Regions from separate parts of the Homo sapiens genome. Here region 1 is reported to be linked to region 2. Evidence: microRNA targets listed by miRTarBase, many of them from high-throughput screens and not tested one by one. Region 2 holds a microRNA gene; the other region holds the end of a gene's coding sequence.
What was found. The annotated mature microRNA hsa-miR-563 reads AGGUUGACAUACGUUUCCC and lies in region 2 at 1,983-2,001, opposite strand. An mRNA with a match to its seed (bases 2 to 7 or 8) in the 3' UTR can be bound and repressed. Matches are read on the target gene's strand: a 7mer-m8 pairs with bases 2 to 8, a 7mer-A1 pairs with bases 2 to 7 and ends in A, and an 8mer does both.

Region 1 (4,407 bases), not on the chromosome of region 2:
CAACTTGGTTAAACACTCCATGCACGTGATGGAGATGTGGCCCAACATAAAAACCTTTAATGATGTGACTCCTGTTTTCCTTTCCAACCTCATTGCCCTCCAAAGCCCCCAAACATACTGTTCTGTGTCCTTTTATGTAGTGATGAGTGAGGAATGACAAGGGGAGACAGGAAAGTTTCTTACACTCACAGGTCCTAGAAACAGATGGCACGGCACACCATGCACAGCCATGGGGGAAAGCACCAGTCAGGAGGCAGGAGCACCAGGAGCCAGGGCAGAGCCTGGGTGCTTACTGGAGTTTCTGAGGAAATGGCAAGGCAGGGTGGGGTCAACAGTTTGGGATCGGCTCGTTGGAATAATTTCAGTGTGCTCTAAACTACAGAGACTATCCCTAGTTGCCCGTTACCTGGTCCTGGGATGATTTAAGGAAGAGGAACATTGCCTCCTAGGGTTTCAGGGCCAGACAGAGGAGGTGTGGCTCAGGTCTATAGTTTGTATATCAAAGGTATGCTCCCACCTGAGTTCTTTGCTGTCTAAAAGAACTGGGGAGCCCCAGGAGGGACAATCACTCCCCAGAAGGGAAGGTTTCTTAAAATGACAAAACATCTTATACAGACAACTTTTAAAATATAAACAGTACATGTACTCTGATTCAAACTGCCCGTAGTGCCCCAAACTGCCATGTGCTGCTTTGTCTCTGAGCACATACTGTTCCATGCTTTGGTTGCACTTGTTTTTTTTTGTTTATCTTAAAATCTTAGATCAAATCCACTTCTCTGAGGTCAAAGCCCTGATGACCCAGAAGTACAGTTAAGAGCTTTCCTTATATCACACCCCGGTACTGCAGCACGTTTCATATTGCTGTAATTACTGGTTAATTTACCTCTTTCTCTTACAAATTATAAGACCCTTCTGAGGGGCTGGGGAGTGGGAAGAGGTAGAAACATTGTTGGAATGAATGAGCAAATGAAAAAAACCCTCCCTCCCAGAGACAATACTCCACTCTTCCTGTTCTCTCCACCCTCTATCACAAACTGTGTCTCCCACAGGGGTGTTGTCTTCTTTTATGTTTTACATCTATCGGTGACCTCTATCTGGGCCTCTTCCTGGCAGAGCTGGGGGTGGCTGAGGAAGAAGGCAGGCTCAGAATTTTCATTGGTCAGTTATTGAGATCAGTAATCTGAGTTTTAATATCATATTATTAATTTATTAGCAAGAAAAAAATATATTTTGGGGCAGATATTTTAAACTAAAAATAAAAATTCCAGCATTCATAGTTTACTCAATGTTAAAAGCACATTCTAAGAAACTAATCCTGGCCATGTGTAGTGGCTGACACCTGTAATCCCAGCACTTTTGGAGGCCGAGGTGGGTGAATCTCTCGATCAGGAGTTCAAGACTAGCCTGGGCAACATGGTGAACCCTTGTCTCTACAAAAAAAATACAAAAAATTAGCTGGGCATGGTGGTGCACACCTGTTGTTCCAGCTACTTGGGAGGCTGAGGTGGAGGACTGCTTGAGCCTAGGAGGCAGAGGTTAGAGTGGGCCAAAATCGTGCCACTGCATTCCAACCTGGGTGATAAGAGTGAGACCCCATCTCTCTCTCTCTGTCTCACACACACACACCCACGAAACTAATCCTTACAACAAGTGGTAAGCAAAGGATATTATTTTCATTGCAGAGATGTAGAATGAAGCTCAATGATGGCAAATGACTTAGTTCAAGATACCAAAGCTTATGAGTGATGGGCAAAATTCTAATTTGAATCCAGGGCTTCTTTTGCTAAATTTGGAGCACTTTCCATTAAGCCACACTCCTCACTGCTCCTTGACTTACAGTTATTTCCCCTCAGCTTATATTTGTCAATATTTACAAAAAAAACACATGCTTCATGCTTGTAAGTGCTGAGTTAATGATCATTTTGAATGTTCCTCAATGTAGGTCATCAGCAAAGCCTTCTGAAAAGGCAGTTAGGACAGCAATGCCAGAGAAGGAAGCATTTACAAATCTCCCATAACAGAGGCACTGGTCTACAGAAGTATTTTAGGGGCCTGTATGTTTCTAAGGAGCATCCAAAGTACACAACAGCTTATAAAGAACCTCTCTAGGTTTTGTTTCATTATGAAATGAAGAGAAATCAAATGTTTCTAGAAAATCAGTAAAATCAGGGATATAAGAGTCAAAGTATAGTGATTGGGTACTACAGAAATAGACAAAGGGTAATGAATCTAGTGAATAATTATGCACATGATCAGGAAATGTAAATTGTGACAATGTGAACAAAGGAGTCGACAGTGTATGAAAATCTGAACACATTTTTATGCACCTAGCCAAAATAAAAATATCATACAAAATTTAGAATGATTTTAAATGTTTTCTGTTTTAATTTATCAGCAAGTAAGCCAATTGATCCTTTATTGTGAAATTTAATACTTAAAAACTTTTGCACTAAAATTAACTTCTTCTATGTTGAATGATGGTTGAATTTCTTTCATATGCTTCTGAGTGAGTGGTTTTAAATATCCATGCCATATAAGTACATGTATTTATCTCTGCAGCTTTTATAAAGGCATTCCTGTACTGTGATCCTTCAGAAACTGCAGTTTCAAAGACTTCCTTTTCAGTCATCCTCAAGATTCAGGGAAATGTAAAAGATTCAACTTTGGCAATGGCTGGGACCTCTGCCCCAATAATGTTATATTCCTAAATGGTACTCCATCAGATATACATTAATGAAACAGAAAACAGAAATACCAAATGTTTTAGTATATATTTTCATCTGAGAAAATATAAATAATATTTATACAGTATTCCATTTTAAGTATTTACACAGCATTAACATAGAAAGCAGTGAGAAACATGATACATTTACAGTGTTTTGTTTTTGTTTTTTCTGAGACAGGGTCTTGCTCTGTCATCCTGGCTGGAGTGCAGTGGTGCTATCTGGCTCACTACAGCCTCCACCTCCTGGTTTCAAGCTATTCTCATGCCTCAGCCTCCCAAATAGCTGGGATTACAGGCCACCACATCCAACTAATTTTTGTATTTTTTGTAGAGATGGGGTTTTCCATGTTGGCCAGGCTGTTCTTGAACTCCTGACCTAAAGTGATCCACGTGCCTTGGCCTTCCAAAGTGCTGGGATTACAGGCGTAAGCCACAGCGCCCAGCCTTACTGTTTGTTATTTACAGTCTTTAAACGTAATTGAAAAGCAAAACTCTGGAAGAGAACTCTTAAAACATTAAGTAATTAAAATGTATAAAAAATGATATTGGGAAAAATGTCATACGTTATAACTTAATAAATGTAAACTATATTAGAAATGCAAATATATTTCATGGAAAGCGTATACTGACCTAATACAGGTATACAAAGGAATGAAAAGATATCATTTCATGAGATGCATATTAACCCAACAGTGAATTAATCCACTGCCAAAGAGGATGAGCAATTAGAATGATGCAAATTGAATCAGCAATAATACAATTTAAAATTTCTAAGTAAACTTGAAAATATCTTTCAACATTTATTTAACCATAAGCACACAAAACATGAAAATATCAAACTGAAAACTAGTCTTAAACTTGGAATCAAATTACTTTGTCAATGTGAGAAGATTCAGGCAGCTCTCAGTTTATAAAATAATCTACAGAGACAAATGATGGGGACTGTTTTAATTAGCATTAAAAAGTATTATGCTGAAAGCAACATTTAGATTTTTTTTGGCCTCACTGTCAGTATTAATTTATTATTTACTGCATTAAATACTACACACAATGGGAAAACAGTATTTTCTATTATATCAGGTTATATATTCCCAAGTTATAAAAATAAATCTTTCTGCAAATAAAAAACAAAAACAGAATAGTCTGCATTATAAGTTTTAAAAAATATGGCAAACTAACCTGATATCATGACTTTTTTTTGGCCATGATTATACTGAGTCTTTAAGTTATTTATTCAGGAAGTTAAATCAAAAATCTTTGATCCACCAATGTTTTGGATGCCAAATTCTTTTGTCCTACTGTATTACGGATATATCTAAAAATCTGGAAAATTAAAACAATTCAGAATGAAAAGAAATATAAACAGAATTAAATATGCACGTCGATTAAAATATCTAGATTAAATTAGCTAATTCTCTCAACTATTTTCATGTATCAGGTATCTGAATCCCATAGTGATACATAAAATTATTTCAAGATGATAATTTCTTTCATAGTTTCATAGTATGTTCCCATTTAGAGTAAATTCTTATGAATTAATAATACAAATTCTCTCATGTTCACAGAAATACACTTTAAAATATATAGAAAGGCAACTTTCTTCTAAGTCTAAAACTACGGAAACATCAAAAGAATCTACTCACTAGAGATAGAATTTCTTCACAATTCTAGATCACTGTCAA
Region 2 (4,407 bases):
GAATATCCTGTCCTTGAGGAAATTATAATGTTGTTGAAAGCGGGGGTGATAGGCAATCATTGCCTAGTTAGAGATAACAAGAAGACAAATACAAACTTTGTATAAATAGAGATAAACAGACACATATTAGAGCATCTGCTCTGCATAAGTAGCTACACCACCAGGAAGAAAGTCTGCAAAGGTCCAGAAAGTAACGAGGAAGAAGAGTTAGGAGAAGGAGGGATCACTGTGGCCTGGGAGAGTCAGGGAAGACTTAGGATGAGAGAGAGGCATAGTGGAACCAGAATCTTTCTTTGTGTATCTGATGACATACTGGCAAGTCCCAGGGGCTGCTGTGTGATTAGAGCTTCTCACCAGGATAGCTTCCTTCTAAGATGGCCTCCCACTACTTGCTGAGAGAGGAAGACAAAGTGGGTTTTTAAAACTGGCTGATTTGCCTGGTAAATAATGTACTTCTAGTCTATAGAATACTGTATTTTTCAAAGGCAAAAATATTCAAGGCTTAGTCCTTGCTGCTCATATCAACATGCTCTCCCTTGATGAGCTCACTCAGTCTTGTAGCTTTACATAGCATCTAAATGCCAATGACTCACAGGAGGATAATATCTTCAGTTCTGACATCTTGCCATACTCATATATCAACCATTTTATCTACATATCCATTTGGAGATCTAACAGGCACTGTAAGCTTCACATGGACAAAACCAACTGCTTGATTTTCCCTAGAAAAACTCTGCTCCTCTCCCAGTTTCCCTGTTAGTGGCACTACTACCACCAAATTACTCAGACCAAAGCAATGGAGTCTTTCTTGTTTTTTCTCTCACTCCGTATCCAATCAATCAGCTGTCGAACAACAGTTGAAGAACAACAGCTGAACGATCCTGTTTGTTCTATCTTTTGAATGTATCTCTCAAACTCCTAGCCTCAAGTTATCCTCCCACCTGGGCCTCCCAAAGCACCACCACACACAGCCTACTAGAATATATCTCAAACTCAATTACTGCTCAATACTTCTTCCCCTGCACCAGCCCATTATCAACACTCATCTCCTAACTGATCTCTTGCTTCTTCTCATGCTATTCTCACTCTATTCCCTACAAAACTGTCTGGGTAAACTTTTAAAGATAAAAATAAGGTCATTTAAAATCCCTGACTAAAATTCTTTAGAGAAAAAAGGAAATAAAATTAGAGGAAGAAAACATGACCAGAAAAGAAAGAAAGGAAAAAAAAACCTATAGTGGCTTATCACAGTAATTAAATTAAAATTCAAACTTCTACCCTTACAACTTTCCAGCCACACTGACCTTCCTTATGTTTCTTAAACATGCTGAATTTGTTGCTTCCTTGGGAATTTTACATTGCTCTTCCCCAGATCTTTGGCTGAAAATTCCTTATTTTCTACTTCTCAGCTCTCAGGGCATCTTACAGATACCTTTTCTGACTGTCCTACCTAAAGAAGTCCACAGCCAAAACTCACTAACCAAGGCACAGTGGATAATTGATAAATATAACAGACAAGGTCCTAACTCTTGTGGTACTTATTTTCTAAATGCGGGGAATGCAAAACATGGTAAGAGACATCTTGTTACTCTGTTTTATATTCTTCATAATGTTGATCATGCTCTGAAAAAATATCTTATTTATTCATTTTCTTGTTTATGTCTATCTTTGCCATTCAGTATATATTAACAAAAGGAGATAGGACGCATACCTTAGCTCTCTTGCTCTCCACAAAGCCACTAGTCCTTACAGTAGTAGTACCCAGCATACAGTTGGATCTCAAAGCATCACTGAATATGCTTGTACATATTCAAAAATGTAGGAGTAACATCACAGCTATAAAGGAAAAATTCATTATAGTGGAAAAACTGTTAATGAACCCCTTTACCCAAATAATATCCTTCCCAACCTTGACATCTAATCCAACCCCAGAATTTTCTGATATCAAGGGTTAGTGGACCCATTCCTTATATTGGCTACCAGGGAAACGTATGTCAACCTAATTACATCAGAGCAACACACATTTCCTAGAGGGCAACACACTTCTTTGCTTCCTGTAAAAATGTATTCAAAGTTGTGTTAAACAACATTGTTACAGTTACAGATTCTTGTCGTATTTTCTTTGTTTCTTTGACATAAGCAATCATGACCTAGCTAGAACCAAATAGAGATAACGGAAAGACAAACAAAAATTTAGGAAAGTGGACAAACACCAACACAGATTAGGCCATCTGCTCTGCATTATATGATCTAACACAAACAACAATGAACCTGACTTTACATTCTGATGCTGGACAAATTATGTAGTCCTTTGTGGTTCATGTTCTTCTGTCTGTAAAATCTGGACAGTCGTGCTTATTTATTCTCCCCAATTTCCGTGTGAAATAGCTATTATTTTATTTCATAGAATTATGAAATGTTATGCCCTGCAGAAGCTTGAGAATCATCTCATCTGTATCCAAATGTGGAAACTGAGGCCTAATGAGGTTAACTGATTTACCCAGGCTCACAGCTAATTACTGACAAAGCTGGAACTTATAATAGAAATCGGATTTTCTGACCCTTAGGCAAGTGGTATTTCTGCCTCACCATACTGCAATGTTTGCCTTACTGTTTCGTTTTTGATGGAGGAGTATATTATCTTCCAATTAGCATGTAATCCTTGAGGATGTGGTAAGTTGTTCTCCCCACAGTAATTAGTTGGCCATATGTAAATAAATATTTATTAAATAAAGGAATAGTTTGCCATCAGTCAATGGCACCTGCCACCCCTCTATGTTGCAATCATCTACTGACCTTTCAGTCATTTCCTCTCATTCATTCAAAATTTTAGCATACAGGTCCCTGTCTCTCCACTGTGACTTGTTATTCTTGGTGACTTCAACAAGCACTAAATGATACATCTGACACTCTGGTCATTCAGTTTCTTGACTCCTCATCTCTAATGATCTTTTTCTCCACCCCACCTTAGCTACCCACTCCCATGCTCATATACTATTACTCTAAAACCTTGATTTTAGGCATTCCATTATTTGACTACCTCCTTCTATCTTCCTAGTTCACTTATTCTAATACACTCTAACTCTTCTTTAATCCTAGCAGGAACTCTGATCCTTTGGCCTCATCAATTTTTCATGGGGCTTCCTTTCCTCACTGTCCTTTTTATCCAGCCTAGATTCCATGGTCCATGACTGTATTCATACTAATTAAGGGTTTGTCAGTGTACAGCCCCTAAGGCCCTTACCACATTCTTTCTCCATCATACTGTCCTAAAAAAAAACTCCAATCTTGGTTAAAGCCAACTCTCTGCGTGACCTTTCCCTGCACTTAAGCATGAAATGAACCTGGATAAAACAATCGCAATTGTGTTGACTGGTTAAATTTATGATCACACACTATAGGAGTGTCTTCAGCAGTACCCAATAATTCTACATTTCCTTGGCCAACCCTCTCCTTCTCTTCTAGGCAGCTCTATCTCTCTTTAAACCATATACTCTTGATGCCCACTCCTAAATTTTACCTGATACCTTCATCTATTGATTTGCTAGGGAAAAAAATAAAAGTAAGCAAAAAAGAGGTACTAGAATCTTTTCCAATAATCTATCTTCCCCACCCCTCACCCTCTACCATTTAAAATGGATGAGGTGTCCAAGCTCTTACTAAAGGCTAAACTCTGTTGAGAGACAATTCTCTAAGAGTCTCTTAAATTTCCTTGTTCCAGACTATGTAATCAAGGATTGAATGTTTCATAGCCTTGGAAGATAGAGATAGTGTCTCCCTCTGGAACAAACAGCAAGAATGTTTACTGCTCAAAATAATAAAAACAATGTCTCTAGAGCAAAGGGCACACACCTTTATTGCCCAATATAAAAGATTCGGGTTCCCTAAGTTCAGAGTTCCTCACTTGTAATGCAACTCAATGCATATGCGGGTGTCATCTGGCCCTCTTCACATTGATCTGGGGAACTGGGGTGTAGGGAACTGGTGGTGTGAGAAATCAAAGCCTTTGTCTTTGACCCAGGAGTTTCCCATTTGCTGAGCCTCCATGAAATAGTGGCAGGCTAACTTGTTAGCTTACAAATACAGTAAAATCTCAGACCCTTCAGAGTTCCTGACATACTTTGCTTCTGAACTACATCTCATTCCCTCCTGCCTTCTCAAGGACTTTGTGCCTGCAGGTATCTACTCTCTCTTGCATCACCAACTTTTCCCCCTTTTACCTTTCAATTACTCCTCAGTCTATACATATAATATCTCCCATCTTAAAAGACAAAAACAACTTCCCTTAGGCTTTTCATCTCTCTCCCTACTACTCCAAATCACTGCTGTCCTTAATTTTAACAAAACCCCTTGGAAGAGTTGTCTGTATTCATTTTTTCCACTTCTTCACTTCTTATAATGAGTTCT

Region 1: miRTarBase lists TMEM67 as a target of hsa-miR-563. Seed matches in the 3' UTR shown: 7mer-A1 at 2,479-2,485.

Annotation. Positions count from the first base shown.
Region 1 is chr8:93,816,013-93,820,419 of GRCh38, reverse strand. It overlaps TMEM67 (transmembrane protein 67), which reads right to left. Exons shown (of 28, transcript NM_153704.6): 28 at 2,299-4,048. The coding sequence ends at 3,968. Among named protein-coding and RNA genes, the nearest start is that of TMEM67, 63 kb to the right of the region's middle.
Region 2 is chr3:15,871,416-15,875,822 of GRCh38, reverse strand. MIR563 (microRNA 563) reads right to left here and starts at 2,052; the gene lies at 1,974-2,052. LOC107986064 (a long non-coding RNA gene) reads right to left here. Exons shown (of 10, transcript XR_007095831.1): 2 at 1,712-1,836.